Linked DNA regions of Homo sapiens. The protein of the gene in region 3 purifies or fractionates together with the protein of the main gene of each other region. This does not show direct contact. Each region holds a gene or a part of one and is shown on either strand. Other genes may lie near its edges.

What was found. Proteins that work in one complex are often made in the same cells at the same time.
Region 1: the proteins of COPRS (region 3) and ATE1 purify together in Homo sapiens (co-immunoprecipitation; 2 studies listed by BioGRID and IntAct, with this or other methods). This does not show direct contact.
Region 2: the proteins of COPRS (region 3) and WDR77 purify together in Homo sapiens (affinity purification with mass spectrometry; 3 studies listed by BioGRID and IntAct, with this or other methods). This does not show direct contact.
Region 4: the proteins of COPRS (region 3) and ACAD11 purify together in Homo sapiens (co-immunoprecipitation; 2 studies listed by BioGRID and IntAct, with this or other methods). This does not show direct contact.

Annotation. Positions count from the first base shown.
Region 1 is NC_000010.11:121,914,532-121,918,031, forward strand, and holds part of ATE1 (arginyl-tRNA--protein transferase 1), read right to left. Parts: intron 1-3,500. UniProt on the Homo sapiens protein: Involved in the post-translational conjugation of arginine to the N-terminal aspartate or glutamate of a protein. This arginylation is required for degradation of the protein via the ubiquitin pathway. Does not arginylate cysteine residues.
Region 2 is NC_000001.11:111,439,390-111,442,823, forward strand, and holds the end of WDR77 (methylosome protein WDR77), read right to left. Parts: intron 3,373-3,434; coding exon 3,264-3,372; intron 2,741-3,263; coding exon of another isoform or gene 2,705-2,740; coding exon 2,636-2,704; intron 2,001-2,635; coding exon 1,841-2,000; 3' UTR 501-1,840; downstream 1-500. UniProt on the Homo sapiens protein: Non-catalytic component of the methylosome complex, composed of PRMT5, WDR77 and CLNS1A, which modifies specific arginines to dimethylarginines in several spliceosomal Sm proteins and histones.
Region 3 is NC_000017.11:31,853,808-31,856,244, forward strand, and holds part of COPRS (coordinator of PRMT5 and differentiation stimulator), read right to left. Parts: intron 1-2,437. UniProt on the Homo sapiens protein: Histone-binding protein required for histone H4 methyltransferase activity of PRMT5.
Region 4 is NC_000003.12:132,653,310-132,656,809, forward strand, and holds part of ACAD11 (acyl-CoA dehydrogenase family member 11), read right to left. Parts: intron 1,362-3,500; exon of another isoform or gene 1,121-1,361; intron 1-1,120. UniProt on the Homo sapiens protein: Acyl-CoA dehydrogenase, that exhibits maximal activity towards saturated C22-CoA.

The sequences.
Region 1 (3,500 bases), on a different chromosome or scaffold from region 3:
CTATATTACCCTTAAAAGTCTTAGGGATTGGTGACACCTCATAGCTCTGGAAATATGAGTGAAAGTTAGGTCTAAAAATAGAAAGATCCCTTCAAAGTCTTGTTTTCGAAGCAGTTAGGATAGATGTCAGATCCCCTCTCCCATCCGCAGATGACTAGACGACTCCCTACTCAACCCAGCAGAAAACTGCAAACTTGCAGGAAAGAGTAACATAGAGCCTCTTACAGGATGGATGCAAGCCACAGCTGAAAGCAGCGGTACTACTGAAAACGGCTTAAATAAAAGTGTACACAGTACATGTTGAGATCACCAACCCAGGTCCAGAACAACAGCAGGTTATGAAATACTTTCTCTCCAGAATGTGATCAGACCTAAAAATACTAACATCAGGGATTCCCCAACAGAAGAGCCCAGCCAGATCACCCACAGTAAACAAGGCCGAGAAACACCCAAGACCCACAGTAAACCAAACCCATCAGGTACACGGAATTTCCAATGGAACACTGAAAAGTCAGAATCACCAGACACTCGAGAAGAGCCTCCACTGAAAAGATAGGTACCGAACAAACTGGAGAAAGTAACCTGGAGGACATAGACCATGACAGAAAGAAGAGAACCTTTTAAAAAAATCCTTAGGAAGATCTCGTTTATTAAGCCACTACATCCATAAAATAACAAGGTGTTATTAAATAAACAAATAAGAGTCTGAGAACAAAAACAACTTCAAAAGTAAAAATATGACAGGAGAAATGTAAAAATTAAGTAGAAGACCTGAAAACTGAAGTTGAAGAAACCTTCCAGAAGATTCTGCAAAAAAGATGAAAAACTGAAGAGAAAAGGTAAAGTCAGAGACTAGTTTAAAAGGTCCAAAATCTAAATAAAGGCATTAAAAAAGAAAATGGAGGTGAAAAGATAGAATAAAAAATTTAAGAAAATTCCCCTGAACTAAAGGATAAGATGGGACGAGCCCCCAGATAAGAAGGGCCCCTCCAGTTTGTCTGTGATGGATAAAAACAGACACATAGCCAAACTGACTATGAAATGTAGAACAGAGGATAGAAAAGCTTCCTAAGAGAGGCCGGGCGCCGTGGCTCACACCTGTAATCCCAGCACTTTGGGAGGCCGAGGCAGGCGGATCACGAGGTCAGGAGATCGAGACTATCCTGGCTAACATGGTGAAACCCTGTCTCTAATAAAAATACAAAAAAAATTAGCCAGGCGTGGTGGCGGGCACCTGTAGTTCCAGCTACTTGGGAGGCTGAGGCAGGAGAATGGCATGAACCTGGGAGGCAGAGCTTGCAGTGAGCCAAGATCACACCACTGCACTCCAGCCTGGGCAACAGAGTGAGACTCCATCTCAAAAAAAAAACAAAACAAAACAAAACAAAAAAAAACAAGAAAAAGAGAAGAAAAGAAAAGCTTCGGCCAGGCACAGTGGCTCATGCCTGTAATATCAGCACTTTGGGAGGCCGAGGCGGGCAGATCACAAGGTCAGGAGATGGAGACCACCCTGGCTAACAAGGTGAAACCCCGTCTCTACAAAAAATTAGCCGGGCGTGGTGGCAGGCACCTGTAGTCCCAGCTACTCAGGAGGCTGAGGCAGGAGAATGGCATGAACCCAGGAGGCGGAGCTTGCAGTGAGCAGAGATCACACCACTGCACTCCAGCCTGGGAAACAGAGCGAGACTCTGCCTCGAAAAACAAAAAACAACAACAAAAAAAAGGAACACTTCCAAAGAGAAAGAACACGTCTCAGACAAAGGTATGAGGATCAGAATATCACCGCACTTCTCAACAGTAATAATACGATAGTGGAACAAAATTCTAGAAAAATTATTTTCATCCTGCACTTCTGTACCCTCCCAAACTAAAGTTTGAGCAGTGAATCAAAGTTTGCAGACACACAAGGTCTCAAAAATGTAACTCTTATGCACTTTCTCTATTAGAAGATGTGCTTCACTAAAACAAGGGAATAATCCAAGAAAGAAGGGTTTCCAACTCAGGTGCTAAAAAGAATCCCCAGGCCGGGCGCGGTGGCTCACGCTTGCAATCCCAACACTTTGGGAGGCTGAGGCAGGTGGATCACGAGGTCAGGAGATCAACACCATCCTGGCTAACACGGTGAAACCCCGTCTCTACTGAAAATACAAAAAATTAGCCAGGTATGGTGGCACATGCCTGTAGTCCCAGCTACTCGGGAGGCTAAGGCAGGAGAATCACTTGAACCTGGGAGGCAGAGGGAGCAGTGAGCCAAGATCGCGCCACTGCACTCCAGCCTGGGCAACAAAACGAGACTCCGTCTCAAACAAAAAAAAAAAATCCCCAAGATGACAGTAAAAAGAATAGCCCAGGCCACATATGGTGGCTCATGCCTGTAATCCCTGCACTTTGGGAGGCCGAGGTGGGTGGATCATGTGAGGTATGGAGTTCGAGACCAGCCTGGCCAACATGATGAAACCCCATCTCTACTAAAAATACAAAACTTAGCCAGGCATAGTGGTGGGCGCCTGTAATCCCAGCTACTCAGGAGGCTGAGGCAGGAAAATCACTTGAGCCCAAGGGTGGAGGTTGCAGTGAACTGAGATTGTGCCAGTACACTCCAGCCTGGGCAACAACAGCAAAACTCCATCTCAAAAAAAAAAATAGCCCAGGCTGACCGTGATGCTTCAGGTGCAGGGGGTAACCTGTTCAGATCAAGCCGGTCAGAAGGCTCCACAAGGGACTTTTCTCAAGTAGATAAAAGCGATCATAGCACTTGATGCGTTTAAATATACTAAGAAAAAACTTACATAACTGGGATTTATTTTCAAAATAATCTGGTCATAGTTATATACACTATGCAAACAAAAAAGATAATTAGTAACTCCAAGGAAAGCAAAAACTTGTGCAGGAAAAGTAATCACAGTACCCGCCATGGTTCAGTTGTGAAGCATATTTACACAGTCACAATGGATATGAACACATCTGCCCAAAATCACACTTCTGAATGGAAAGCTAGGGATGGGGACAAAAACGAGCTTGAATGTGGCAGGGAAACAGGGATAAGAGAAAACTAAATCCTTATCTTCCACAGAGAGAAGCCCGGAAATAATGGAGAAAACTAACAGAAAAAGAAAAAAAATGCAAGTGTTACAATTATATAAGCATGTTGCTTAAAGACAGGGAGATGAAAAACCAAAAGAATTAGTTAAAATGTTTCAAGATGACTGCCTTAGGGGAACAGGAAATGGGACAGGGGGGTTGGGGGATTGCTTTTTCCAAAACAAACTTTATTGCAACTTGACATTTAATGAGCATGTGGAATTCTGATAAAAATAAAAAACTTAAAAAATCATAGCCAGAAAAGTTCATCCTCATTTATACACACATACTGGAGAGTCCCTACTGACTAACAAGAAGCTAAGCTGTTAGCTATAAGCCCCTTTCCTTTATCTAAGTTCTCATTGCAACTGCTGTTATATACAAGGTAAAAATAACCAGAAGAGTAAATATGGAAAATG
Region 2 (3,434 bases), on a different chromosome or scaffold from region 3:
TGAAACCCTGTCTCTACTAAACACACAAAAATTAGCCTGTAATCCCAGCTACTCAAGAGGCTGAGACAGGAGAATTGCTTGAACCCAGGAGGCGAAGGTTGCAGTGAGCCAAGATCATGCCACTGCACACTAGCCTGGGCAGCAAGAGTGAAACTCCATCTCAACAAAAGAAAAAAAAAACCTATGCTTCCCTTCCATATTGTAACCACCTTGACACATTTCCTTCCTTATCACACATTTCCACACATTTGCTTCCTTATCTCTTTCACTGAGTTTTTTCTCCATCATTCTTAAGTCCAGGAAGAAAAGGGCTATGCAAATTCCTACTCACCTCAAGCTCCCCCACCCCTTACTTTCTCTAAGTGTCCACAAAATTAAAGTTTTATCTTCGAGAGGCAGAACTTAAGTGATTGTACCTACCCATTCTATTTCCTCCCACATTATAAAAATGATGCAAGACTTTATTCCTACTCCACATCAACGCCAGAGGATCACACAACTACAAATTCCCATGTTTTACTCAAGGGTAATCATGTCAAGGGTGAAGCATGGAAGCTTTACTGAGAAATATTTTGCCCATATTCCTTCAGACTTTCCCAGTTTCATAATGTGATTTTTACCTAAATTGAACCTGCAAAGCTCAAAAGTACATAATTGATTATATTTACTTTCAATATAATCAGTAATTGATCCATGACTCCTAACTGGCAATATCCACTCCACCAACCCAAGAATAAATATTTACCTTAAGTTCTAACTAGCTACTTTGGGAAGCTGGGGAAGCACAGGAAAAATAATGGGCTACAAGACCAACACCATGATGACTCACATAAGTGAAATATATCTAACTACACATAACACACATGCTTCAAAAAAGACAGGCCAACAATGCCTAAACTCTTTATTTCACCAACCAGTATTTCTGATTTTCTTCTTGATACTGGATTTTAAAACCTTAGAAGTCTATAAATACTGCATTCAGACTTTCCACATCAAGAGAAAGGGGACCAGGGCAGAAGATGTCAGGCCCCATGCTGTTTTGGGGTGGGAAAAGTGGCAAAGAATTCTCAACAGCCTGTGTCAGTTTTCTAACTTAATTGAAACACCTTTAAGCTCTCCTTCATCCCCAAACTTTCCCCTATGGTGTCTATGATAGAAAAACACTTCTCTCTCATATATGTCCCATCACTAGGGAGCCAGGGGGAAGGGAGTGGGCATTACACAGGCAAGCCAAACTTTTTATTCAGCCAGAAAATGGATTTCTGATTCAGTTTAATGGTAAGGAGTTGTGTAAAACCGTACCAAGTCCTGCTTCTTCCTCAGAGTGAGCTGGGCTGCATTTTTGTGACTGGAAGCATTTCTCATAATGGTGAATTAAGCACTATAAAAAAATAAAGTCAATCCCATCTCTATGAGTAGCATAAGAGCTGCTTCCAAGAACCCAGGGATGCCCACATCCCATAACCCACCCAGACACGGCCAATTCCTCATAGACAGCTACATAAAACCCTTTCGTCAACTTGTTTTGGGGGGTGAGAGAGAGGCAGTGCTTAGGGAAGATGTAGGATGGATTTTTTTTATTCCTGCCACTACCAAAAACTATAAATCTACACACACACTCACACGCACATACATGTCCATTTTTAAGAAAGCTTTTCCTCCCTGTGACTACAGGAACCCAGAATCCAGCCTCCCTCAGGCTGAGAGACGATGCCTATTAACGGCACAGATCTAGCATATCAACATACTATAGAAGGCTCCTGTGTTGTCTCACAAGCTGAGAGGGCAGGGCAAAGAAGTGGACACTCATGGGGGACTTGCTTTTTGTCTTAAATCCAATCTACTCAGTAACACTTGCAGGTCCAGGGGCTGGGAGAGGTTCTGTGGGCACAACGTGGTGGACGACCTGATGGTCCCAGCCCACTGTGGTAAGCAGGGAGTGATTGAGCGGGGACCAAGTCGCATCTCTCACAAAGTCTCTGTGGGCTTGGCTTCTAAACCTAGAAGAAAGAAAAAAAGTCGGGGCAGAGTAGAGACAAGAAAAGCAGACCTGGAGAAAAAAAGAGAACCCAACACATCTGGGGCACATTTTTTGGGTGTGTTACACACATTTCACCAACTGTATGGCCTCATCGCCAGGATAGCAGTGTAGCTATCCACAGTGGATGTCATCAGTCATCCAATCCAGTCTTCTATTTTCATAGATGAAGAAATGCTGGATAGAACAAGACAGTGATGAGGGGCAGTAACAGGCAGCAAATCACGGCAAGGAGGGAAGTACAATTCAGGTCTTCCAGGTGCTGCCTTTTACCCTGTAGCAGGCTGCATTTCATACGCAGTTCTTTATGTGAGAGGGTAGACTGCCGCCCCCTTGTGGGAGAGCGCTGGAGGGCTAGACTTAAAAATTTCACCTACCACCCCCCTCTACCAAGGACACGGCTTGTCCTTGGGGTTGTGAATGTGCCCCAGGAATGGACAGGGTCAACAGCCAGCCTGCTTCCATTACCAAGTCCCTTCGGATACAGATGGAGAATCTGTTCTCCAAAAGCACAACACAGTTTTCTGAAGAGGAAAATGACTCGCCCACCCACTGCTCCCCTTCCCTGATTCCCAAAGGATTCCACTTCACACTTACAACTCAGAAAGGCTTGAGTCCAGCACAGCAAGTGAGCAGTCTTCACTGAGAGAGGCCAGGAAGGGAACACTATCAGATGGAGGAGAGGGTTGTGAAAGGTCCAGCCTGGATCCCAAGACAAAACCTTAACTGGGCCGGCCCTGCCGCCACTGTAAAGTGACCCAGGAGAGGCAGCCTGATTCCCACTTTTGGCTAATCTGGCTACTACAAGTCCACACTAAAAGTTTCAAGTAAAGATGAGGGAAATGAAGCAAAGTTAGGGTTGACAACCATCCTGGCAACTAACCACCCCATCTGGTCCCTCTCTATAGCTTCAGCAATAACCCAGAAACACAGGCTTTTCCAATCTCACAGTCCTAGAAGCCCACAACATTAACCATTTTGGGTGTTGGGCAGGAATGAAATCACATTTTAGCCATTTCAGACAGAAACCATCTAATCTGAAAAATCCTTTGACTCCCAAAGGATTCTACTTCACACTTAAGAGATCTTCGATGTTCCGAAACCTCAGCTAGAACACTGTCTGCTTTAAGGAACTACTTCATCAGCTAATGCTTTGAAAACATACACACACACCCTCACGGTTCCCATTTATACCCATCAGGCCCCTGATGACAAAGAACAGTACCTGTGTGGGGAGAACACCAGCCCAGTGACACACTGGGAGTGTACAGCTGAGCTCAGGACACAGCTTGTACTCTTGGTGTCCACAAGGGAGACTGTCCCATTCTCATCACCTGTAGAAGAGAAGGAACATGTCATAGTGATTAAGAGCATGGACTTTTGTGCCAAAGACTTG
Region 3 (2,437 bases):
TGCCTCCCTCTGACATCAGGGAGGCCGGAAGGTACATTTTCAAAAGGCCTCACAATAACGGAGGAAAGACTGGGGAAAGATAATGGATTTCCGAGCACATAGTGCTTTGGTGATGCCAGGTCCCAGGAGAGAAGGCAATCAGCCTAAAACAGCCATGCTCTTAATACTGGAACAACAGTAACAGTGATAAGCAATAAAGTGATAGTTCAGAGCAAGGGGTCTAAAGCCAGACTGTCTGATTTCAAATCCGTGTTTTGTCAATTACCAAACATCGGACTGGGCCGGGCACGGTAGCTCACCCTTGTAAACCTAGCACTTTGGGAGGCCAAGGTGGGTGGACTGCTTGAGCTCAGGAGTTCAAGGCCAGCCTGAACAATGTCGCAAACCCTGTCTCTACAAAAAATTCAAAAAATTTAGCTGGGTGCAGTGGCATGCACCTGTAATCCCAGCTACTCAAGAGGCTGAGGTGGGAGGATCGCTTGAACCTGGGAGGTGGAGGCTGCAGTGAGCCAAGATCGTGCCATTGCACAGAGTGAGACCCTGTCTCCAAAAAAAAAAAAAAAAAAAAAAAAAAAAGTGTGATTGAGCTGAAATTTACTTAACTAGTTCCATAACATAAATATAGAATTACCATATGACCCAGCAATCCCAGTCCTAAACATATACCCAAAAGAACTGAAAACAGCTGTTCAAATAAAACAAGGATACTCACAGCAGCACTATTTACAATCACCAAAAGGTAGACACAACATCAAATGTCCATCAATGGATGAATGGAAAAACAAAATGTGGTATATGCATATGATGGAATTATTCAGCCATAAAAAGGAATGCAGTGCTGATACATGCTACGGCATGGATGCACCTTGAAAATACGCTAAGTGGAAGAAGCCAGACACAAAAGGCCACATATTGTTATGATTCCCTTTACAGGCAACTCACATTTGCCTATCCAGAACAGATAAACCCACAGAGACAGAAAGCAAATTAGTGGTTGCCAAGAGCTCAGAGAAGGAAGGAATGGAGAATGACTACTTGGTGAGCACAGGGTTTCCTTTTAGGGTGATGAAAAGATTCTGGAACTAGGTAGTGGTGATGGTTGCACAACACTGCCATTGTGCTAAAAGGCTACTGAATTATATGCGTTAAAATGGTTACATGGTAAATTTAGGTTATGCATCTTTTACCACAATTTTTAAATTGTTTTTATTTAACTGTTCTGTGCCTCAACTTCCACATCTGTAAAATGAAGATAGGGTTGTTGTGAGAGTTAAAAGAAAAAAAAAGGCCAGGCACGGTGGCTCATGCCTGTAATCCCAGCACTTTGGGAGGCCGAGGTGGGCGGATCACCTGAGGTCAGGAGTTTGAGACCAGCCTGGCCAACATGGTGAAAGCCCCTCTCCACTAAAAATACAAAAATTAGGCCGGGAGCAGTGGCTCACGCCTGTAATCCCAGCACTTTGGGTGGCCAAGGAGGGCAGATCACGAGGTCAGGAGATCGAGACCATCCTAACAAGGTAAAATCCTATCTCTACTAAAAACACAAAAAATTAGCCAGGCGTGGTGGCGGGTGCCTGTGGTCCCAGCTACTCGGGAGGCTGAGGCAGGAGAATGGTGTGAACCCAGGGGGCAGAGTTTGCAGTGAGCCGAGATAGTGCCACTGCCTGGGAGACAGAGCGAGACTCCGTCTCAAAAAATAAATAAATAAATAAATAAATAAATACAAAAATTAGCCAGGCGATATGGTGCACGCCTGTAATCCCAGCTACTCAGGAGGCTGAGGCACGAGAATCACTTGAACCCGGGAGACAGAGGTTGCAGTGAGCCAAGATTGCGACACTGCACTCCAGCCTGGGTGACAGAGTGAGACTCCATCTCAAAAAAAAAAAAGAAAAAGAAAAAAAGGGGCCAAGCGTGGTAGCTCACACCTGTAATCCCAGCACTCTGAGAGGCTGAGGCAGATGGATCAGGTGAGGTCAGGAGTTCGAGACCAGCCTGGCTAACATGGTGAAACCCCATCTCTACTAAAAATACAAAAATTAGCTGGGCATGGTGGCATATGCCTGTAATCCAGCTACTTGGGAGGCTGAGGTAGGAGAATGCTTGAATCCAGGAGGCAGAGGTTGCAGTGAGCCAAGATTGTGCCATTGCACTCCAGCCTGGGCAACAAGAGCAAAACTCCCTCTCAAAAAAAAAAAAAAACGGCAGGGGGCTGGGCACAGTGGCTCATGCCTTTGTAATCCCAGCACTTTGGGAGCGTGGGCTCACAGTAATCCCAGCACTTTGGGAGGCCTAGGTGGGCAGATCACTTGAGATCAGGAGTTCGAGACCAGCCTGGCCAACATAGTAAAACCCCATAGCTACTAAAAATACAAAAGTTAGCTGGGTGTGGTGGCGCGTGCCTGTAGTTCCAGCTACTCGGGAGGCTGAGGCAGGA
Region 4 (3,500 bases), on a different chromosome or scaffold from region 3:
GCAAATAGGAGCAATCAGATGAGAACTTCCACAAGCTTACACTACTGTATCTACTGCATACAATAATCTGTACACATATATTCTGTCTTCCCTCCAAAGTCTGCAGAAGGACGTGCACATTTCTATCTAAGGGCAACCCCTTCTCTTGCATATTAGAGTCCTGCCTTCTTAAGGACTTCTTTCCAGGCCTCTCTCCTACACAAAATTTTCTCTTCTAGATTACTGTCATCAGCATACAAATATGATGTTATTTTTTAAAAAGCTTTCTCTTGACCTCACTTCCCCCCTACTTAAAACATTTCTATTTCCTTTCGTAGAAAAACTCCTCAAGAGATTACACGTCCTCCTCCTATCTTCTTAAACCCATTTCAATCAAGCTTTCATTCCCTTCTTTCCATTAATACTACTTTTTCAAGATCACTAATACAAACCATGGTTTTCCCCCACCTCTTTGGCCACTTCTTCTAAGACTCCTTTGTAGGTTTCTCTTAATTTGCTAACTTCTTAATATTGGGGTGCCTTGGACTCAGTCTCCAAACCTCCTTTTTATGTGAACTATTTTCTAAGTAAGACCTTCGATCTTATGTCTTTAAATATCTTCTTTTTGTCGATGGCTCTCAAATTTATATGTCTAGTCCAGATCTCTGCCCCGACCTCAAGACATAACCAACTGCTTACTATACATATCTACTTGGATGTCTAAAAGGCATCTTGAAACTTAACACTCCAAAACTGAGTTCCTCAAATTTCCCCCTCAAATCTGCTTTTCTATAGTCACCTACATTTCAGTTCACAATAACCCTATTCTTTCAGTTACCAAGGCAGAAATGAAATAATCTTCGTCTCTTCCTTTCCTAGCCCACATTTAATCAGTTAGTAAACCCTTCAAAATACAGTCATGCATTGCTTAATGACAGGGATGTGTTCTGGAAAATATGTTGTTAAGTGATTTTTGTCACGTGTAAACATCCTAGAGTGCACTTACACAAACCTAGATGGTATAGCCTATTATGCACTGATATATAATTATGTTTTATGATCATAAATGTCTCATAATGGAGTCACTTATGACAAGTGACTCAGCTTACAGTGAAATCACTGACCACTCAGAGTAGTAAGCATATGTGTGGTGGACTGAGGTGATAAGATAGCATCTGCTGTGGCCAGGCATCCCTGACACCTGACAAGAAAGTAAAGCCAAAAGTCAGCTGAAGATAATGGCCATGGAGATGTCTGTGGAGAGCCGTAAAAGCCAATCATGGCTGAGATGCCTGCAGAATCTCTGCCCATGAGAACTCTGAGGCCTCCTTTCCTTTGGCTGTGGTAAGCCCTCTGGGAAAAGAGCAGCTACCCACCACCAGGTCAGTGGGCATTCTGAGGAAAACCAAACCTGGTTTTCTCAGTCAGTGTGCTGGTCTCCCAGAATACTTGCTGTGTTTCCCTTCTCTATTAATGCCTATGTGTGTTGGATAGAGTTACATGATTGTTGTGTAGAAGCCACACAATAAATCGTGAATTCCTAAGCATTTAATTGGCACTGATTCGTTGTGAAACTTCTCAGCTGGTTGGAGTTAGCATAAATAGGCTGATTTGAACCCGATAGGACACACCTGAGCTCTGTGGTACAGCCTGCTGCTCCTAGGCTATAAACCTGTGCAGCATGTGACTGTACTGAATACTGCAGGCAATTAATTGTAACAAAATGATAAGCATTTGTGTATCTAAACACATTTAAACATAGAAAAGGTACAGTAAAAACACAGTATTATAATCTAATGGGACCACTGCCGTATATGCAGCCCGTCATTGACCAAAACGTCATTATGCAGCATGTGACTATATACTTACACTATGACCACTTCTTACCCATTCTACACTCCCACTCTGGTCTATGCCACTGATATCTCCCTGCTGGAACACTGTAATACATTGGTGTCCTTGCTTCTGCCCTTGGCCCCTTCAGTCAACTCTCAACACAAGAAGCAGAGATTCTGTTTTTTTTGTTGTTGTTGTTTGTTTGTTTGTTTAAAGATTACTTCCCTCCTCTGCTCAAGCATGTTTTAAGTCTCTCTCCATCTCAATTCAAAGTAAAAGCCAAAGTCTCTTTATTGCCTGACAGGGTCCCTGTTGCCCTTGCTTACACTACTTCAGGCATTTGGGCTGTGTTTCCTCAACACACTGGGCACACATCCCTTCCAGGGCCTTTGCATTAGCAGTCCCCTCTGTCTGGAACACTCTTTTCCTGGATATTTACATGGCTCACATTTTCATCCCCCTTCAAGTCTTTGCTGAATGCCGTGTGCTCGAGGAAATCTTCCTGCCCCACACCCAAACATTTCCTATTCTCTTTTCCTCCATGTTACATATCAACTTCTACATTGTAAAGTTCAGAAGCTGATTTTCCTGTCTGTCTTCTACAAATACAATGGAAGTTCCAGGGAGGCAAGATTATTGTTACATCCTCAGTGGTTGATACAGTGCCAGATACATATTAGGCACTCAGCTGCAAATCACAAGTTTTGTTGTATCAAGCTATATAATACTTTCATTATTGATTAATTCTAAATATTTTATCTTTCCAATAAGATTTAATTTTTGCAAATTTTAAAAGTAAATCTTGCAGATAAAAAGAGTATTTATGAAATTGGTAAGGCATGAGGAATAGTAATGCCACAAACACCATTTTCACTACCCGGAGAAAATTACTGTCTTTGAAACCCTGTATGTCCTTCCCCTTGAGTGACTACCATTCTGAATTTTATATTTATCATTCCCTTGAAGTTTATCTCTGTATATAATATACTGTTAATTTCTTCACGTTTTTCATTCTGTGTTATGTACAGCTGTAGCTGAATCATTTTCACTGTTGTATGCTACTCCATTATGTGAATATACTGCAATTTATTCATCCATTCTGTATCTATAGACATTGTGTTGTTTCCTGGATTTTTGCTATTACAAACAGTACAATGAACATCTTTGTAGATTGTCCCCTTATACTGTAGTACAAGAAAAGTCTCAGGAGTATGTATCTATGAGTAGAACTGCTAGGTCATAGGTCATGTGTATCTTCCCAACTTCATTTTTACAAGATCATGTTGAGTTATTTTTCAATAGCAGCTATACTAATTCACACCCCTATATGAGTCCCTGTTGCCCCATATCCTGATGCTTGATATTGTCAGATTTTTTTTTTTTTTGAGACGGAGTCTGCCTCTGACTCACCCAGACTGGAGTGCAGTGCTGTGATCTCAGCTCACTAAAGCCTCTGCCTCCCAGGTTCAAGCAATTCTCCTGCCTCAGCCTCCCGAGTAGCTGGGATTTACAGGTACCCACCACCACACCCAGCTAATTTCGTATTTTTAGTAGAGACGGGGTTTCACCATGTTGGCCAGGCTGGTCTCGAACTCGACCTCTGGTGATCCACCTGCTTCAGCCTCCCAAAGTGCTGGGATTACAGGCATGAGCCACTGCACCCAGTCTATTGTCAGATTTTTTAA